Linked DNA regions of Homo sapiens. The protein of the gene in region 1 binds, or shares a complex with, the protein of each later gene. Each region holds a gene or a part of one and is shown in the gene's direction. Other genes may lie near its edges.

Region 1 (10,849 bases):
GTTATACCCATTTACAATCCCACCAGCAATGAATGAGGGTTCCAATGTATGAGGGTTCTCCACATCCTGGACGACACTAGTTATTGTCTCTCTTTTCTATTATAACCATTCTAGTGGGTTAGTGAAGTGTCATCTCATTGTAGTTTTGATTTGCATTTCCCTAATGACTAATGATGTTGAGCATCTTTTCACGTGCTTATTGGCCTCTGTATATTTCCTGTTTTTTTTGAGACGGACTTTGGCTCTTGTCTCCCAGGCTGGAGTGCAATAGCACAATCTCGGCCCACTGCAACCTTTGCCTCCTGGGTTCAAGCGATTCTCCTGCATCAGCCTCCTGAGTAGCTGGTACTACAGGCGCCCGCCATCACGCCCAGCTAATTTTTGTATTTTTAGTAGAGTCAGGGTTTCACCATGTTAGCCAGGCTGGTCTCGAACGCCTGACCTCAGGTGATCCACCTGCCTCAGGCTCCCAAAGTGCTGGGATTACAAGTGTGTGAGCCACTGCGTCCGGCCTGGCCTCTGTATATTTTCTTTGAAGAGTTGTCCAACCAAATTGTTTGCCTTCTTAATAAATTTTGGTACACACACACACACACACACACACACACAGCACATTCACATCCCATCCCAGATTCACTTCAACGCAATAAACCCGAGACAGCTGTGATTAGCCCTGTTTATCAGATGAAGGAACAGAGGCCCAGAGTAATGCAATGATATGTCCAAGAGCACATAGCTTATGGAGTGCCAAGATTTAGAATTTTATGTTTTTTTCTTTATTTTTCTTTATTTTTATTTTTTTGAGACGGGTTCTCACTCTGTCTCCCAAGCTGGAGTGCAGTGGTGCAATCTTGGCTCACTGCAACCTCCGCTTCCTGGGTTCAAGCGATTCTCCTGCCTTAGCCTTCCGAGTAGCTGGAATTACAGGTGTGCACCACCACACCTAGCTAATTTTTATATTTTCAGTAGAGACAGGGTTTTTCCATGTTGGCCAGGCTGGTGTCGAACTCCTGGCCTCAACTGATCCACCCACCTCGGGCTCCCAAAGTGTTGGGATTACAGGCACGAACCACTGCACCTAGATTTTTTTTTTTTTTTTTTTTTTGAGACAGAGTCACTGTCGCCCAGGCTGGAGTGCAGTGTCGAGATCTCGGCTCACTGCAGGCTCCGCCCCTGGGTTCACGCCATTCTCCTGCCTCAGCCTCCCGAGTAGCTGGGACTACAGGCGCCTGCCATCTCGCCCGGCTAATTTTTTGTATTTTTAGTAGAGACGGGGTTTCACCGTGTTAGCCAGGATGGTCTCAATCTCCTGACCTCATGATCCGCCCGCCTCAGCCTCCCAAAGTGCTGAGATTACAGGCGTGAGCCACCGCGCCCGGCCTGCACCTAGAATTTTATGTATTTAACAAACATTCATATAGTGTTTACTACATGCCAGTCACTGTTAGAAAAGCCCACGAACCCATCTTCCAACAATGTTCCAGTAAAAAGGTTACCACTAGCAGAACTTCCTTAAAGCAATACCTTGTTTCTCTTTTTAAAAAACAACTTTTTTTTCTCCAATCACCAAAGTAATACATGTTTATTGTAGAATAGGAAAAGCACAAAGAAGATGGAGCAGGGATTTTTCTCCCTTGTTTCCCATAGCTCTGATCTGGTTTCTCTGTGATTTGGGATTCGTGTGAACAGGTGATGTGCTGAGGAGCCCGGGACAGGGAATATGTACCTTCAGGAAGTGTCTGTCAAGCAGTTTGTATTCTGATTAACAGGACTTTGAGCACAGGGAATCTGTGGAATTTTTCAGGAGAAGATACACCAGCTGGAATGGAAGTTTGCTTTAGTTTGGGGATTTTTCCAGGACTATCTGGGGTTGCCTGGAACAGGAACTTCCTCACTTACCTGCTCTGTGGCCTCAGGCAAGTCATGGCTTCCTCATCTGGAAAATAGTACTAAGCATCCCCAACTCATCCAGTTGTGGGACACAGTCTTTCCACTTCCAGCAATGTGTGCAGCACTGGAACCCCTGGTTCATTAGCAGAATGTACCCTCCTTCACATGGGGTTTTGGGGCTGAGTTCACTGTTCACAACAGCGCAGTGCCTTGGGAGAGATCTGAGTTCAGATCCTGATTTCATCTTCAAACAGTTGTCAAGTTCCTTTACATATTTCAGCTTCAATTTCTTCATCTGTCCAAAATGTACCTGTGTTACAGGGTAGTTGGGAGGTTTCGACAAAATAATGTATGTAAAATACCTAGCTGGGTGTTTACGCCTAGGAAGTTCTCAGGAAATGTGAACTATTATCATTTATTTCAGGCCTACTTTGTGCCTGGCATCTCAGGGGAGGAAGGCGCAAAAGTGAAAACAAAGCCTGGGTCCTGCCCCCAAGGAGTCTGAAGATTTGTTGATAGGTAGATTAAAGTAAAAGGGTCTTATGCACTGGAGATAGGATCAGAGACGTAAGAAAACTGCCAATTCTTGAGGCTCCTTATAAACCAGGTTCCATGCTGAAAGCTTTATATGCATTATCTATGAGATTTCTTCACAATCCTATGAGGTAAGTGCTATTAGGATTAGAAAATCAAGGATCAAAGATCAGAGAATTTAGGAAATTTTGCCTGGGTCACACAGCTAATAAAGTGTCAGGGCCTGGGTTTGAACCCTGGGATGTCTGACTTCAGATTCTTTGCTCCTTCCACTCCATTTGAGTTGGACCTTGAAGGATGAGTCAGATTTGGGCACATGGGGATGGAGGGGAGGAGGGGCCTGGAGGGGAGGCGGGGCCTGAAGAATAGGAGGATATGGAGCCAGGTAAGCAAAGCCTGGGAGATGGGAAAGTGTAGGGCGTGTACGGCAGAAACTCTGAGGGTTTTGTGTGTGTGTGTGTGTGTGTGTGTGTGTGTGTATGTGTGTGTGTGTGTTTGAGACAGGGTCTCGCTCTGTGACCCAGGCTGGAGTGCAGTGGCACGATCTTGGCTCATTGCAACCTCCACCTCCTGGGTTCAAGCGATTCTCCTGCCTCAGCCTCCCGAGTAGCTGGGATTACAAGCACACACCACCACGCCTGGCTAATTTTTTTTTTTTTTGTATTTTTAGTAGAGACAGGTTTTTGCCATGTTGACCATGCTGATCTCAAGCTCCTGGTCTCAAGTGATCCACCCACCTCGGCCTCCCAAAGTGCTGGGATTACAGGCATGAGCCACCGTGCCCGGCCTGTTTGTTTATTTTGAGACAGTCTTACTGTGTCACCCAGGCTGGAGTGCAGTGACATGATCATGGCTCACTGCAGCCTTGACCTCCCTGGGCTCAGGTGATCCTCCCACCTCAGCCTCCCGAGCAGCTGGGATTACAGGCGTGTGCCACCACGCCCAGCTAATTTTTCTGTATTTTGGAGAGACAGAGTTTTGCCATGTTGCCCAGGCTGGTCTCAAACTCCTGGGCTCAACAGATCTGTCCACCTTGGCCTCCCAAAGTGCTGGGTTCACAGGCATGAACCAATGTGCCCGGCCTGAAACTGCAAGTATTTAGTCTGGTTCCATGTGAGGGCCTCTTCGGGTCCATTTCACATAAACCTTAGCCAAAATATATTAAGTACCTACCATGCACCTGACATTTCTCTAAGGACTTTATAACCAACACCTTACTAAGGCCTCACAGTAAATGGAGAGGTCACTTGTGCCGCCTCCATTTCAAAGATGAGGAAATTGAGACTCAGAATGGTCCAGCAACCTGACCATGATCACAATGCTAGGAATGAATGGGGCAGGAATTCAAGCTCAGGGAGGCAGATTTCAGATCTGTGCCCCACACCTATTGCAAGAATTAGTCAGTTCCCAGGCAGTGAAACTCTAAAGCCAGCCCCAGCTGCCCGAAACTCAACCACAGAGAGCTGGCTCTCAGCCCCTCACTGGCTCCCTTCTTTTCTCCCAGCTCCACCCTGCCACCCCCATTTCCCTCCCTGGCCCTGGGGCCCTGCTGCTTCCCCAAACCTGCTCTGCCACAATTCCTTCCAGGTTCCCTCATCTGTAAAATGGGGATAATAATAGTGTCCGTCTCAGAGCAGTGTTGTGAGGATCAGAGGAGGGGCTCAAGGTGCTTAGAGCCCAGTGTATAGTAGGTTCTCAATAAAAATCAGTGATCATCGCCACCACTGTCATTTAAGTAGTGTCTCTGAAGTAATGTGAAATTGACTGAGTGATAGCATTATCCACATTTGATGGTTGAGGAAATTGTGGTTAAGAGAAGTGAAGCAGCGGCTGTCCAGTGTCACTTAACTAGGAAGTAGAGAGCGGGACTTACTTAATCTGGGCCTCCTGACTTTCTGACTTCAGATCTCATTAACTTCTCCTATTCTTTGCAGCCAGGCAGATGAGTGAATCATAATCAGTATTTATTACCTGCCTTCTGCACTCCAAGCCAGGCCCTAGATGCTAAGGGGCATTCTAGAGAGATCTGACCTAGATTCTTGAAGGAGCATAGAACCTAACTGATAAACAAGGTATGAAAACGAAGCCTTGTTTTGTTGAGGTAGAACACACTAAGGGTCCCAAGAGGGTAAGAGCCATTCTGGCTGAGAGGAAGCAGGCAGGGGAGGCTTCTTGGAGGAGGTGAGATTTAAGCTGGCCCTCAAAGGACCAAAAAGGACCAATGAGATACGTAGACTAGAGTAAAAGGGTCTTATGCACTGGAGATAAGGTCAGAGATGTGACCGGGAGCGGTGACTCACACCTGTAATCCCAGCACTTTGGGAGGCCAAGTAGGGCGGATTGCCTGAGGTCAGGAGTCCGAGACCAGCGTGGCCAACATGGTGAAACCCTGCCTCTACTGAAAATACAAAAATTAGCCAGGCATGGTGGCTGGCGCCTGTAATCCCAGCTACTCGGGAGGCTGAGGCAGGAGACTCACTTGAACCTGAGGCAGGAGAATTGCACCGCTGCACTCCAACCTGGTGACAGAGTGAGACTCTGTCTAAAAAAAAAAAGTCAGAGATATAACAACAGCTGCCAATTCTTGAGGCTCCTTATGATCCAGGTTCTGTGATGAAAGCTTTATATGCATTATCTCATGAGATTTCCTCATGATCATATGAGGTAAGTGCTATTAGGAGGAGAAAATCAAGGATCAAGGATCAGAGAATTTACAAAATTTGCCTTGGTCACACAATGAATAATAAAGTGTCTGGGCCTGGGTTTGAATTCGGGGCTGTTGGCTACAAAGCCTGGGCTCTTAATCATCATGGGTTATTGCCACCTTGGCCTCAACCATCTAATGAGGAATTAAGCTGTGGACTGTCTCTGGAGGGCTTTGAATGCCAAGGCTCAGACTTGCATAAAAATCACACAGCACCAGGCAAGAAATCAGACCTGAAATCTAGCAGCAGCTTCTAGCAACTTTTTACCACTCACTACCCAAGTTTGCTTCTCTGAGCCTCTCTAAACCGGAGTGATGAGGAATGTATTATCAGCAATGAAGGTTTTTGAATGAGGCAGAGAGGCTCTTGTGACAAAAGGATTGTTTAAAAGAAACCTAGAGATGTTCAAACATTTACTGAGTATTGGGTCCTAATAATACAACTGTGAACAAGACAAAGCTCTGCAGTGGGACTCTGACCCTGCTGTGCCCCCAGGCAGCTTGGGAGAGTAGAAGAACCCCTTAACTGGAAAAACAAGGGCTCCAGAGCTGGGACCTGTCCCAGATTCTGTTGCCAGCTCTCAAATCAGGGAATCTCTCTGTATGACCTTGGGCAAGTTACCCAGCCTTTCAGACTGTCAGTCTTTATCATGGGGATCATCATTCCTCTTCCCAGGATTGTTGGAATAAATTAACTAAAACAACGCTTGTAAGGATCTAGCATGGTGCCTGGCATCCTGTAGGCGCTGAATAGATGTTAGTTTTCCCTACAAAGAAGTAGACTAGTTTGCCTCCGTCCCTCACCCCTCTGCCATTAAAGGGAACAGGTTCCTGGCCTTCATTTTAGCAGGAAAGGGGATATGAATGCACATGTGCTAGCTAAGCAACAATGCAAACTAACAAAAGGGCCTGTGGCCTGGGGAATACACTGCTGGGTCTGGGCTCAGGCTGGGACCCCGCGCCAAAATGTTTCCCTTCAATCCCAGGGAATCCGGGCCCATTTCTCGGGGCGCTGTGCACTGCTCTGGCCGCCTCTGCACTGTGAATCCCGGAACCACCCTCTGTCTCCGTCTCGCCGGCTGCTAACTAGCGCGGCCGGCGGCTGGCGGCACCAACAGCAGGTGTGGCTGCCCCTTTAAGCAGCGAAGCTAGTGTTGCAATCGCCGCCTCGAGGACGCGTTCTTTCCGGGGGGGGGGGGGGGGGTGGAGCCTGTACTGTCGCAGCAGCCAACCGGAGCGCGGCATTTTCCGCGGGAGATCCGAATTTCGCGGCACGACGTTTGGCGCTAAAAAAAAAAAAAAAAGAAGAAAAAAAAGAGGCAGAGAAAGACTCAAGGACTAGAGAGCGAGCCGCAAGGAAGTCGGTGCAGTCGAGACCCCCCTCCCCATCCCAGCGCATCGCGTCTCCGCCGAGCTTGAGGGCACGCCGGGGACCCCTCCCCAGAGCCGGCCGGACCCCAGGTGCCGAGGCCTTGGGGAGCGCGGGGCGTCCCGGGTCGCGGTGCCCTCGGGACGAGACAGCCCCTGGCAGTGCCACCACCGCAGCCGCCGGGCGATCTCCAAGCGGCGATCTCTAAGCGCTGCTCTCTGCTCGGCCGCGGGCCAGGAGGGGAGGGTCCGGCCTTGCCCCGCAGGCGTCCATTGGCGGCTTCCCCCGGCCTCCGCGCCATGCCGCGGGCCGTGTGAAAGGCGGCAGCACCGGAACCCGCAGGTGTCCGCGGGCGCGCCAAGCCCTTTTGGGTAGGGGGCGCCTTACTCGCTATGCTGCAAGGGCCCCGGGCCTTGGCTTCGGCCGCTGGGCAGACCCCGAAGGTGGTGCCCGCGATGAGCCCCACAGAGCTGTGGCCATCCGGCCTCAGCAGCCCCCAGCTCTGCCCAGCTACTGCTACCTACTACACACCGCTGTACCCGCAGACGGCGCCTCCCGCAGCGGCGCCAGGCACCTGCCTCGACGCCACTCCCCACGGACCCGAGGGCCAAGTTGTGCGATGCCTGCCGGCAGGCCGGCTGCCGGTAATGCTGGGGGCCCCCACCGCTTCCCCCTATGCTTTTCCAGGTGTGGGAAAGGAGGGAGGGGTGCCTGAGATCCAGTTTGAGTGGAGCAGGTAGAGTTTTGGGAAGAGGGAAGATGAGCTTTCAGTTTCCAGGACCCAGTGCCCCCAATATCTGAGTAGAAGACCCCTTCATTTTCAGACTTTGGATGAAATAATCTCATCCATTCTAGTGGAGTGGAATGAGCACTGGATTGCGAGTCTGGAGGGAGACCCAACTCACTACTCCCAGTGCACTGTGTGACCTTGGGGAAGTCCATGCAGCCAGCGTTGCCGCCATTCATTCATTACTTCATTGTTTGGCCAGAAACCAGTACTGGGTGCCTGCTATTGTCCAGGCAAAGAGTATGGCCTGGGGACACTGTGGGACTTTGGTAAGACAGAGGGATAGGTCTAGTGGGTCTCTCACATCCAATCTGCCATGGACAGACTCCAAATTGTCCAGCCAGCTCCTGAGATAGCCCCAAGTATCTGCCCTAGGTCCTCCCCCAGGCCCAGTCTTCCCTCCCAGACAGCCATGTAGCAGATACAAATGTGGGCAGCCCCCTTGGGTTCTGTTCAGATTGGCTGCTCTCTCCTCAAGCTCCCAGGCTCGTTGCCAGAGAGGGCCCAAAGTGTAGTGGCACCAGGCTGCCTGCTGACCTGGGCTCAGGGTGTGTTTTGTGGGAGTGGAATTCCTGGAGCCCGTGTGAATCAAAACAACTTTAGGGTGGGGGGTGGAGTGGGAAAAGCCTGGGGGAGTGGAGGTGGTGGTGGTTGAGGAGCCTGGTTTCTGGTGTGACTCTGCCACTAATTCTCTGTGTGTCCTTGGACAAGTCTTGGACCCAGTCTGGGCTTCAGTGTTCTCTCCTTCACAATGCGTGTGTGCACAGGGTGGCTGTGGGGCTAGCTCTTCTCAGCCACATTCAGCTCCAGGTCCTGGGTTTTGGAAGCAGGCTCCAGGGAGAGGAAGGGGGTGTTGTAGGTTTGCTTAGTTGTGAGTTTGGTGAATAAGTTCGGGTACAGGGATAAGACCACCCCCCACTGCCCCAGAGGCATCTGGTCAGACCTGTGCTAGTCAGCAAGCACGGATGCCCAGCCAGCTCTGGATGCAGGCAGAGCCACCACTCCCTGCCAGTGGACTCAGGCTTTGCCCATGTTCAAAACGTTAACCTTCCTGGAGACCCTTCCTGCACATGATTTCTAACTAGGAGGGCAGTGGGCAGGAATGGTATTATCCCCATTTTACAGGTTAAGCAACCGAGGATAACTGGGATTGGGTATCTTGTGTTCAGTGTTTTATAGCCTAAAACATCTTTGTAGTTCGTGAAATAGATGGCATTAATAGCTCCATGTTACAGGGGGAAACTGAGGCTCAGAGAGGGGATGTGACCTAAGGTCAGAGATGGGGATGGGGTAGAGTGATGGGACTCACAAGGCAGTCAGCTCTTCTGTCTTTTATTTTTTATTTTTTGTAGAGACAGGGGTCTCCCTATGTTCCCCAGGCTGGTCTCAAACTCCTGGGCTCAAGCAATCCTCTTGCCTCAGCCTCCCAAAGTGCTGGGATTACAGGCATGAGCTAGCTACTCTAATGCACCTGGTCAGGCAGCAGGCTCTTCTCTATGTAGCCTTGACTTTTTTTAATACTGCCTAACTTAGGAGCTGAGCTCCCCCCAGGGAAGGGAGCTTTGCGGCAGGCCCACTCTCCTCTGGCCAGCTGCTTTCAGACTGGAAGTTTCAGTAACAGCTGTGGTTTTACACTGCTTTGAACCCTCCCAGAGGAGCCCAAGTACATCTGTCTGTACCTCCCTCCCAGAAGGGCTCAGTGATCTTAGCAAGAAGGTCTCTCTTTTACTGAGTGCCTCTCGTGTGCCAGACACTGCTTGGCACTCTTCACGTTCATTATCTTGGTCAGGATGTCCAGAATGAGGCACCTTGCAGATAAGGAAACTGAGCAAAGAAAGGAAGTCACTTGCCTGGGTCACAAGTGAAGAAGCAGGGGAGTCTCCTTGCAGCAGACCACCCTAAAGCCCTGCCAGGCCCAGAGCTCCCGCTCCTGTCAATCCCCAGATGCCCGGGGCCCAGCCCCGTGGGCAGGCCTGCCCTCTGCTTACTCATTTTACAAGGGCGTGACCTGGAACAGCTCCAAACCCAACCCTGGGTGTGGCCGCTTGCTTTGTGGCCGGGCTGCAAAGTGCAGGGTGAGCAGGATTTGTTGTGGAGCTTCTGTTTAAAGGGACCTCAGGCACTGTCCAAGGATGGCAACCAAGTTCAATGGCAGAATGAAGGCCACAACCCAGATCTCCTGGCTCCCTGTCCAGAGCTCTTTCCAAGTCCTCTGAGGAAGGCTCAGGGAATGCCCCTTTATCGCATGCCTCCTCTGGCCAGGCGCATGGCATCATTCTCTTTCACGCCTGCAGGAAGCTCTGCCCAGGCTGGCTTGCAATAGCGCCATCTCTGCTCACTGCAAACTCCACCTCCCAGGTTCAAATGATTCTCCTGTCTCAGCCTCCCAAGTAGCTGGGATTACTTTTTGTATTTTTAGTAGAGATGGGGTTTCACCATGTTGGCCAGGCTAGCTTCGAACTCCTGACCTCAGGTGATCCACCCGCCTTGGCCTCCCAAAGTGCTGGGATTACAAGCGTGAGCCACCACGCCCGGTCCTCCTTTTCTTTCAATTTGTCTACATTTTCCAGATTTCCTCTTGTGAGGCATGAAAGAAAATAAACATTTTAACACACAACTCTACAAGGCAGGTCAGGTGAGGAGGTGTAGGCTCAGAGAGGCAAGACAGTGAATCCCAGGCTGTTCAGCTACGAAGTGGCAGAGCTGGGATCTGAAAGCAAGGTTCGACCCCTTACATTTGCTCCTACCCCCACCATCTGACTTAGGGCTTAGGAGAGACCAGGCTCCACTCTGCGTGACCTTGGGCAAGTCAATTCCTCTTCCCCAAGTCCCAGTTTCCTCACCGTGGTGCCCGTAAGGGGGTTGTGCCTGGTGATCTCTGACCCTCTGCACTTCTGCAGCTGCCTGAGGAAGGAGCTGTACTCTTCTCCATAGGGGTTGGCAGGGTGGGCTTGCGTCCTGACCAGGCCTTGAAGATCCAGCCAAAGGGGCTGCCTAAGAGCGTCCAGGATAGGGCTAAGCTGGCCTCTGGCTGTGGCCATAGCCTTTGCTCTCCTCCCCTCATCGCAGTCTCTTTTCAGCTCACCCTTGAACTTTCCCCTTTTCCCACTGGTGCTCCCCATACATCAGTGCTAGCAGCTCCCTGGTGGGGGCACTCCCTATGGGCAAAGCGCTTTGCTGCACTATCTCACTGAATCCTCAGCATAGGTGGAGACAATGATGCCCATTTTATAGGTGACTTGACGTCAACTGATTTCCCAGCTAAGAAGGGGAAGGCCTAGATGCAAAGCCAGGCCAGTCTGACTCCAAGACCTGTGCTCAGCCTCACCTTGATGCTGATCCTCCTGGGCTTGTCCTCTGCCACCTGTGTTCTGCAGGTTCAGCCCAAGCCATAGGCTGACTTTCCTCTGGGCACTGTCCAAAGGTGTCAGGGAGGTATCCTTAGGGGGACACTTGCCGCATTGGGACCCTGGGAGTGCAGAATAAGGGTGAAGGAGAGTGAGAAAAGAGAGAAGGCTGTGTGTGTGTGTGTGTGTGTGTGTGTGTGCAAGTACATGCAGTGATG
Region 2 (10,602 bases), on another chromosome or scaffold:
AGTGCGGCCTCTCACTGCTCCGAGTCCCGAGGCGAGACCCCCTGTTCGTTCAATGATGAAGATGAGGAAGATGATGAGGAGGATTCCTCCTCCCCAGAATAAAGACAAGAGAAAGCCTACGTTTCAATATGTGATGCTCATGTGTGTTTGTAGTGTGAGCTCTTGTTTTTGAAATGATTGCTTCAGTCTTTGCCTTTGTTTGCACTGTGTGTTCAGTGAAAACTAGAGAAACACAATAAGCAAATCACATGAAGGCTGAGATGATTGAGATGAAAGTTAACATAGTGTGAATGAAAGTCTGGCCAACAGAGCAGTAGATGATATAACAAAGAAAGCATGCTTTCTGAGGAGATAGTGGGGATAATCCCTGAAGAGTTGGCAGTGTGAGTGCAACTCATTTATCTTCTGTGAGGTGGGATTTTTGTGTTCCTCACACCCATGTAATTATTCTTAGAATTGAGATTGCTACACGGAGCAGTCCTTGACGATCGTGTTTCTGACGTTTCTCTTCCTTGCCTGGACTGCCTTTGACAAGGCAGAAATGAACATGAAAAGTCCCCAGGAGAGGGGAGCTGTGTAGTGAGGGATACTGAGGGCAGTCCTGTGGCTGAGGGGCACAGATTGAACTGCTGAACTAGTTGGAGGTCTAGATGAGGTGCTTTACGCATCAGCTGCCTTAGACAGCTTCTAGAAAGGAGCGAGCGCTACTTCTTAAGTACTTAAGTGACATTTAGATAATTTATAGTAAAACTGAAATTATTATTAGCCAATGCATTGGTGCATAGAATTTACTAGGGCTACTTCTGGAAGCCAAAATAGAATAGCATTTCCATGTGCATTAAATACTTTGCCAGCACTGCCTTTGCCAGCATCCTAAATCTGGAGTTTTACAAAGAAGGAAACTGTATCTTTAGGTTAATCAAAGCTATGCATTTCATATAGCTTTTTCATTTAAAACAAGACAAAGAAACAAATTCCTATGACCAAATTGCTTGCCTACAGTTCCCTGCAGTAATTGTATGATCTCACCCAGTGTGCAATTTGTGAAAATGAACCAAATGTCATTACTTTTGTCTTAAAGAAAAGTCTATTTCAAGAATATGAACAGCAGTGTTTCCTTGTACATGTCACCTTTTTTCACATTTTCATTAATCAGAATGACCTTATTGAGCCTACTCCTGGGGTCAATTGCATTTCAAACTAATCCAATATTTAGTGTTTCACAGAAACACTAGAAAACGTTGAACACTCCTACTGCCTGGATATATGGTAGTGCAGTTATGTTGTTTATGGCTCAAGATGTCATTAGAAATACTGCAGTGGTGTATTCACAGCTGCTCCTTCTCTGAATGAAAGAGTGTAGGGACACCTGCCACCATGGCCAGACCCTGACTGAATTTCACATTAAGGCTTTGGAAAGGAGCAAATAATAATGGGAGAATTAACTCCAAAACTTTGACCTGAATCATGTGGATTTGTCCCAAGATTATGCTAGATGCACCAAGCATGGCCCAAATTGGTTCTTTTTTAAATCCCATGGGGGAAGTGCAGGCTCCTTCCTGTGGTGCCTCTTTATAGCCTCACCACCATGCTAACACTGAGCATGGTGAGGAGGAGGAAGCTTTGGCTAGCTAAACATGTTTAATAAGGCCATAAAAACTGAGAAAGAAAAACATTCAACTTTAGCTGAAGCTCCTTTGATACAAAAGTTTCATTCTGTCAGAAATAAGCCATAGTACAGACTCAGAGATAGAGGCAGTTTCTAGAGAACTCGGTCTTATCGTGGGTTCTGGAGCACACCTCTCAGACCAGTCAGGAACACTGGGGAGGTGACAGCAGGTCCCCAGGGGCCTGCAGGGAATCTTTCAGCTGCACGGATTGGGATTTCCCTCCAAACCAAACTGTCCTTTAAGGGGCAGCCTCCTCTTTTACTAACTCCACCCTTTCTCATCTCTGGGACCCAGCAGGGACCTGGAGAGGCCAACAGCCACTGCTACCTTTGTAGTCTTCAAAATATTGAACTGCAGGTCCCAAGATGCATTTCAGGATTTAAGACAGGTGCACTAATGATAACCATTCCTTCACCAAGTAGCAACATTCTTGCCAGAGTTCTTGGGAAACCTGTTTTTTTCTCTACTCTCCATCTCTGCTGCTCTCATGCTTTAAATTGATAAAATATGGGCTCAAAAAAAGAAAGCCGCCAAAGACTCTTATCCTTATTGGTGCCCCATCATTGGCCACCCCAGCCATAGGTGTGTGCTGTTGGTGGGAAATGGTCTCCTTCCTCAGCGTTGTGTTTGGGTTACTGGTGAGGCCAGCTCACAGAGTGACATCATGGTCACCAGTACATGTCGCTGGAGTAAAATCTTGCCTTTAGAAACTAGGTTGAGCTGTTCAGAAAGGTCAATTCTCTTCTGTATTCCCCCTCAACATTTATCTGGGTCTAAAGCTCAGCACTGAGTCACAATTTCACACAAGATCAAAGTGAGGCAGTGTTAGGAAACCATGGGCTGGGTGCAGTGCCTCTCGCCTGTAATCGTAGCACTTTGGGAGGCCGAGGCGGGCACATTGCTTGAGCTCAGGAGTTCAAGACCAGCCTGGGCAACATGACAAAACCCTGTCTCTACAAAAATACAAAAATTAGCTGGGTGTGGTGGGGCATGCCTGTAGTCCTGGCTACTCAAGAGGCTGAGGTGGGAGGATTGCTTGAGCGCAGGAGGCGGAGGTTGTAGAGCCAAGATCACACCACTGCACTCCAGCCTGGGTGACAGAGCAAGACCCTGTCTCAAAAAAAAAAAAAAAAAAAATGGAAGTTGTGGTCACAATGCCCAGGCTTCTTTGTTATAGTGGCACGCTGGGTTACTTGCCACACACAGATCACTCCTCCCAGGGCTGCTGGCACACACTGATTGTGGGGAGTTCAAGAGGCCTTTTCCCCTTGAGGGTGTGGCTGTCCCCCTTTCAGGCGTGTGGCGTCATTCATGGAGGAAGTGCTGGCTCTACTTAGCACACGCACAGTGGCACTAGGACCTGCGTGCCTGGCCCTCAGTGGGTAGGGCGGTGCTGCCTAGGCACACAGCAGCGCTTACGGGCCCCAGGTGCCTACTAGGCTGCCTTCCTCTTCCCCGCTGTCAGTCTGTGTCCTCCACGTGCTTATTTCCTGTGGTGAGAGCAGTTGTGGTGTTTGTATACCTTGTGCCTTATGATCAAGGTGGGCCTTGGAGGAGGGCGGGAAAGGAGCGACCAACATGGCGGTCCTCCACCCCTCAGCGACACCCACCGCCCGAGAAACTACAGACAATGGCCACAAGTTTGGCGTCCTTCAATTTAATTCTTTAAAGAAGTGCTGGGAAGAAAAAGCTATGTGGTTTCTACCATTTTAGCAGGATAAAGAGGATAACTCCTTCCATTAGCAAATTTTACAGTTGTTAACAGTACTCTGCCATATTTGAAAAATAATGCCAGAGTCAGTCCTTGAAAACAAGGTAGCTCCTATCAGAATTCAAATGGAAATTTTTTTTTTTTTTTTTTTTTTTTTTGAGACTGAGTCTCGCTCTGTTGCCCAGGCTGGAGTGCAGTGGTGATCTCGGCTCACTGCAAGCTCCGCCTCCCGGGTTCACGCCATTCTCCTGCCTCAGCTGGGACCATGCCTGGCTAATTTTTTTTGTATTTTTAGTAGAGACGGGGTTTCACCGTGTTAGCCAGGATGGTCTCGATCTCCTGACCTTATGATCCACCCCTCTCGGCCTCCCAAAGTGCTGGGATTACAGGCGTGAGCCACCGCACCCGGCCTCAAATGGAAATATTTCACAGAGGAGTGGTTCAGTTTAGCCCTGCAAGACATCTATAACTTGACTGTTTGCTAAACCACAACTCTTTTTGGCTACTTGGGTCATAGAGACAGCAGAGTTGCTCCAAGTATAAATGTGACTTAGGCTCCCTCCAGCACACAGTGTGTATGTTGGAGGGAGTGTGGATTAGCAGAGAATGAGAACTACCTCAGCTATTCCTGCCATAACCACACTGAGAGAGGGGGGCACGGTGGGGAGCCTATTTAGCTTTTTTTTTTTTTTGAGACGGAGTCTTGCTCTGTCGCCAGGCTGGAGTGTAGTGGCGCAATCCCGGCTCACTGCAACCTCTGCCTCCCGGGTTCAAGCGATTCTCCTGCCTCAGCCTCCCAAGTAGCTGGGATTATAGGCGCATGCCGCCACACCCGACTAATTTTTTGTATTTTTAGTAGAGTCAGGGTTTCACCGTGTTGCCCAGGCTGGTGTCGAACTCCTGACCTCAGGTGATCTGCCCACCTCAGCCTCCCGAAGTGCTGGGATTACAGGTGTGAGCCACCGCACCCGGCTCTATTTAGCTTTTTAAAAATTATTTCCTTTCAAGGGCCCTTTAATATCTATCAAGCTCCCTCCCCTAACAAAATGGGCTGTCCCTGCCCAACAAGTCTGAAATAGACCTTAAAACTGTGCTGCCTTAGTGGTAAGTAAGGGGTGGGGGTTGGACAGTGAATCTTAAGATTTCATCCTTCATTCAGTAAGCATTTGAGTACCTACTGTGAGCAGGCATTGGGGCGGAGCAGCGAGAGCCCTGCCGATGTTGGGTTCTCCTCCTATTGGGGAAACTTGATCACAGATGGAACACGTGCAGATTGATTGATGAGTGCTGTGGAGAAAGCAGCAGCGTAGCGGGACCGTTTGGGAAAGGCTACTTTGGCTGGGGGTGGCTGGGAAAGGCCCCTCTGGGAAAGAGACAGTTTTACTGAGTCAGATGGTGGAAAGACAGATGTCTCTATACTTTCTTAACAAGCCACTCTGTCCCATAACATGCACTTGGAATCTCTCCTAAGTTCCAGAGGCCCCACTGTTCCAGTTTCAAGCCTTCATTTTGGAGTCTGTTTGGGAACTTTTAAGACTTCAAAGCAAAGTTAGCTACCAGCAATTTCTGTAAACCAAGAGAAGATTGTCACAAAGATTCACTACTTTCCAACTGAATCTATGCAGTAGAAAAATCATTAGAAAATACAAAAATTAGCCGGGCGTGGTGGCACATGCCTGTAGTCCCAGCTACTCGGGAGGCTGAGGCAGGAGAATCACTTGAACCCAGGAGGCGGAGGTTGCAGTGAGCCAAGATCCCGCCACTGCACTCCAGCCCAGGTGACAGAGCAGGACTCTGTCTCAAAAAAAGAAAAAAGAAAGAAAGAAAAATGATTAGAAATTGAGAACTATTTTACGTGTTTCTAAGTTGTTGGCTACATCAAAGAGATCATCTGTATTCTGCATATGGGCTGGCTTTGGTGAAGCTGATGACTGGACTTCTAAGAACCGTTTTCCCAAATGGGTTCCCATATTCATGCACCCAAAGCAATGGTCCCCAAGCACTGATGAAAACTAATATGCATTTCCCAAAGACCCACACTATGTATCAGGAGCCTGCACCATGCCATTTGAATGACCCTCAGCAATGTGCCTCCCTGCCCTCAAATTCCCAGTTGATAACAGTGTTTGATTAAATTTCCACTCAAGCCAAACATGGTTACTAAGAAGAGAAAAACCTGATGTTTGCATAATATTTTTTTTCCCCTCGAGATGGAGTCTTGCTCTGTTGCCCAGGCTGGAGTGCAGTGGCATGATCTCAGCCACTGCAACCTCTGCCTCCCGGGTTCAAGCGATTCTTCTGCCTCAGCCTCCCAAGTAGTTGGGATTACAGACATGTGCCACCACGCCTGGCTAATTTTTGTATTTTTAGTAGAGACAGGGTTTCACCATGTTGACCACACTGGTCTTGAACTTCTAACCATGTGATCTGCCTGCCTCGGCCTCCCAAAGTGCTGGGATTACAGGCTTGAGCCACCACGCCCAGCCTAAGATTTTATGATTAAAAAAAATTCAAGCTCAATACCCACATAAATTATAACGTTTCTCAGGAAGTAGTCCCTTAACCAAAACGTCTCTGAGAAGTGATGCTTAGGTAATCTCTGGGATCCGATTTTCCCACATGTCTCACTCCACAGTATGCTAAAGAAGAAAAAGTGAGTGGGCACAACACTTTGACCCTCTGGCTAAGCCCTGGGAGTCCCTGACAGGTCCAGAAACTTCTCTGACACCCATTCACCAGGGTGCTGAGATAGGAGAAAGTGCTCATTTATAATGTGTATTCTGTGCAGCTGTTCTCAGACAAGACCGGATCTTGTCATCTTACCTTTTGCTTTACAAAAAAGGCCTGTTGAAGTCAATGCTGTCTTGCCCCTTGCTGTTTCAGCAGGTTAGACTTTGGTCTTCACTGCTTATAGCTGCATTGGAGGCCAACGTAGCTGATGCTCAGGGTCAGGCCTCGCCCCTTCGCCGCAGGTCTCAGGATCGGGGATAACATCGCTCCCACCCTGCTCATTTAGAGATGGGAAACAAGCAAGAGCTTGACTTGCCTCCCATCCCTCAGCCTGTCTGTGGCAGAGCCTGCACCAAAACCCAGAGCTTCTTCCCTCCGTGAGGGCCACGCTGTCACCACAGTCCTCCCAGATGGGTTTTGGATTAGCATCAGTCCTGTGTCACCAAGTGCCAAACAGCTGAGGGGTAGAAGTGGGACTCCTTTCCCGAGCCCCAGCATGAGGCTGTGGTGTCAGGTTTAGGCCTCTCTCAAGTCAGAAAACCCCGGGCTGAGACCTCCACAGACAAGGGCTCCCCATGCTGGCCATTGGCAGGGGCCCAAGAAGTTCAGTGACCAACTGGTCCTTCCACACCACACCAGCTGGTGCTGCCCATGTCTGTCGAATCATAACGGAAAATTCCCCAGATCACGTTTGGATTTAAAAACTCATCCCTTGTCGTGCTTCAATGCATGCCATTTGTCACTTACCATACTTCACCATGGCCGAGCTTCATGTCACATGGCCTGGCGATTGTGCTTGTTCACACTGGGGCCAGGATTTTCATACTAAAACGTCACTGACAATGGGGCTACTTTTCTCCTGAATAGCTCCTCTGGGCTTGTTGCAGTTCTAGTTTTCCCAGTAGTTCCATGGCAGGTTCAACCTCTCAGTGTCCTGAAAAATGGAACCACCCACTAACCATATGCACTGGCTGCCCAGGTGGCTGCACTCCGGGGATCACGTTTCAGTACTGAGTTCCTTCACGCACTTGGTTCACCACCATCACTCTTGAGTTTTGGACAAAAGAGGTGGGTATGCCAGGCACAGTGGCTCACGCCTGTGATCCCAGCACTTTGGGAGGCCGAGGCGGGCGGATCACCTGAGGTCGGGAGTTCGAAACCAGCCTGACCAACATGGAGAAACCCTGTCTCTACTAAAAATATAAAATTAGCCGGGTGTGGTGGCGCATGCCTGTAATCCCAGCTACTCGGGAGGCTGAGGCAGGAGAATCTCTTGAACCCAGGAGGCAAAAGTTGCAATGAGCTGAGATCGTGCCATTTGCACTCCAGCCTGGGCAACAAGAGCGAAATTCCATCTCAAAAAAAAAAGGTGGGTAAAGGGCCATGAGCCCAAACCACTAGGTTGTTCACCTTTTCATCTGAAAATGCTTTACTCTGACTATGTGCTATTGGGTTTTATTTCCAGAAAATATAGTTCTCCTTTTTTCTGCATGAAGGATACATCGTGGTGCCACATGCTTTAAGCAATTTAAACAAGAGAGATAAGAGGAAAATGCAACCACCACATCTGACTTGCCCAATGTAGACTTTCCTTTATTAGATTGAAGTACACAACCTAATATGATATATTATTTTGTAGTATCTCAGACTTTGTAAATAAATGCCATTATTTTTATATGGAAATTTTATAGAAGAGCTATTTCTGTATACGTAATTACTCCTGATTTTCTGAAATTGCTTCTGGTAGATAACAGACAAGTCCTAAGCAGTGTTCCACTAAGGGTGGTTCCAGGCCTGCCTGCCGTGGAGTTGACTGGGGGAATTTTACAGTTTTGCGATCCTAGGATGCGTCCCAGACGCTCAGTCAGAAGTGCTGGAGGTGGGGCCTGGGAAGCTGTATTTGTAATGAACTCTGGTGTTTTTTGTCCATTAAAGTGTATCTTTGTCCATCCTATAAGATTAAAGGAAAGAAAAAGCATCTCAAATGAGTGTAAGTTGTTCTTGAGAAAAAAATGTATCAGACTTTTATGATTTGAATGAAATGTATTATAGAAAAAAATAAACACTTTAAAATAATGTTAGTCTCATTACTAGTGGGTCAGGATATTTTTAGTTAAAAAAGGAGGTGTTAGGCCATGCGCAGTGGCTCACGCCTATAACCCCAGCACTTTGGGAGGCCAAGGTGGTCGTATCATTTGAGGTCAGGAGTTCAAGACTAGCCTGGCCAACATGGTGAGATCCCGTCACCACTAAAACTACAAAAATGAGCTGGGTGTGGTGGCATGCGCCTGTAATCCCAGCAACTTGGCGCAGGAGAATCGCTTGAACCTGGGAGGCGGAAGTTGCAGTGAGCTGAGATCACACCACTGCAGTCCAGCCTGGGCAACAGAGTGAGACTCCATCTCAAAAAAAAAAAAAAAAGCCTTTTTTTTGTTTTTGTTTGTGAGATGGAGTCTCTGTTGCCCAGGCTAGAGTGCAGTGGTGCAATCTTGGCTCACTGCAACCCCCACCTCCCAGATTCAAGGGATTCTCCTGCCTCAGCCTCTGGAGTACCTGGGATTACAGGCACGTGCCACCACACCCGGCTTATTTTTGTATTTTTTTTTTTTTTTTTTGAGACGGAGTCTCGCTCTGTCACCCAGGCTGGAGTGCAGTGGCGCAGTCTCGGCTCACTGCAAGCTCCGCCTCCCGGGTTCACGCCATTCTCCTGCCTCAGCCTCTCCGAGTAGCTGGGACTACAGGCGCCCGCCACCACGCCCGGCTAATTTTTTTTTATTTTTAGTAGAGACGGGGTTTCACCGTGGTCTCGATCTCCTGACCTCGTGATCCACCCGCCTCGGCCTCCCAAAGTGCTGGGATTACAAGCGTGCAGCACCGCGCCCGGCCTATTTTTGTATTTTTAATAGAGATGGTGTTTCACCATGTTGACCAGGATGGTCTCCAACTCCTAGCATCAAGTGATCCTCCCACCTCAGCCTCCCAAACTGCTGGGATTAAAATAAAAAAGAACAATAGGCCGGGTGCAATGGCTCATACCTATAATCCCAGCACTTTGGGAGGCTGAGGTGGTCGGATCACTTGAGGCCCGGAGTTCGAGCCCAGCTTGGCCAACATGGTGAAACCCAGTCTCTACTAAAAATACAAAAAATTAGCCAGGTGTGGTGGCGGTCGCCTGTAATCCCAGCTACTCGGGAGGCTGAGGCAGGAGAATTGCTTGAACTCAGGAGGCAGAGGCTACAGTGAGCCAAGATCGCGCCATCGCACTCCAGCCTGGGCAACAAGAGCGAAACTCCATCTCAAAAAAAAAGAAAAATGAACAATAAAATAATGGTGGGCTGTTCGGGTGAGGGTAGTGGGTACTCTGGGGCTCTGCCAGAGAGTAAGGACTGAGACCCTCTTTCAACATCTGAGTTCCTCTTCATGAATTGCCCTCAGAAGGGTGGCCAGGGCCGGGCGCGGTGGCTCACACCTGTAATCCCAACACTGGGAGGCCGAGGTGGGCGGATCACAAGGTCAGGAGATCGAGACCATCCTGGCTAACATGGTGAAACCCTGTTTCCACTAAAAATACAAAAAATAGGCCAGGCGCAGTGGCTCACGCCTGTAATCCCAGCACTTTGGGAGGCCGAGGCGGGCGGATCACGAGGTCAGGAGATCAAGACCATCCTGGCTAACACGGTGAAACCCCGTCTCTACTAAAAATACAAAAAAATTAGCCAGGTGTGGTGACGGGCGCCTGTAGTCCCAGCTACTTGGGAGGCTGAGGCAGGAGAATGGTGTGAACCTGGGAGGTGGAGATTGCCCCACTGCACTCCAGCCTGGGTGACAGAGCGAGACTCCGTCTCAAAAAAAAAAAAAAAAAATTAGCCGGGCATGGTGGCGGGCTCCTGTGGTCCCAGCTACTCGGGAGGCTGAGGCAGGAGAATGGCATGAACCCAGGAGGCGGAGCTTGCAGCTAGCCGAGATAGTGCCACTGCACTCCAGCCTGGGTGACAGAGCAAGACTCTGTCTGAAAAAAAAAAAAAAGAAGAAGGGTGGCCAGGTGCCGTGGCTTACCCCTGTAATCTTAGCACTTTGGGAGGCTAGGCCCAGAATTGCTTCCCTGCAATTCGTAGGGAAGATGCTTTCTTATCATCTCTTACACCAAACCAGCATCAGCGAGAACAGCGACAGCAGTCAATATAGAATGCCATGTCCCCAGGCCTCAGGTGGAATGTCACCTGACCTCCGGAACATAGCAGCCCCTCAGCACCTGATCACGCAGTCTCTACCTGTCTCAGGGAGAGGCCGGAACCCTAGATAGCTTATCTCCTATGTTCCAACAAGTTGAGCACGTGGACAATCAGAAGGCACAGAAGGGTGTGGAGCAGTTCAGGGGCCAGCAAGTAGACCCAGGTCTTGAAAAGGAGATGGCTAAGTAAGCACTCGATGACATATTGGAAGGAATGCATCTTCCCATAAAGACTCCCCCTGGAGTTTCACAGACCAAAT

Evidence for each region.
Region 2: E2F2 (region 1) and TFDP2 share a complex: the UniProt entries of both Homo sapiens proteins name them as parts of the DRTF1/E2F transcription factor complex.

Annotation. Positions count from the first base shown.
Region 1 is NC_000001.11:23,526,834-23,537,682, reverse strand, and holds the start of E2F2 (transcription factor E2F2), read left to right. Parts: upstream 1-6,449; 5' UTR 6,450-6,889; coding exon 6,890-7,141; intron 7,142-9,263; exon of another isoform or gene 9,264-10,278; intron 10,279-10,612; exon of another isoform or gene 10,613-10,753; intron 10,754-10,849. UniProt on the Homo sapiens protein: Transcription activator that binds DNA cooperatively with DP proteins through the E2 recognition site, 5'-TTTC[CG]CGC-3' found in the promoter region of a number of genes whose products are involved in cell cycle regulation or in DNA replication.
Region 2 is NC_000003.12:141,942,013-141,952,614, reverse strand, and holds the end of TFDP2 (transcription factor Dp-2), read left to right. Parts: coding exon 1-102; 3' UTR 103-7,576; coding exon of another isoform or gene 7,577-7,605; 3' UTR 7,606-8,187; downstream 8,188-10,602. UniProt on the Homo sapiens protein: Can stimulate E2F-dependent transcription.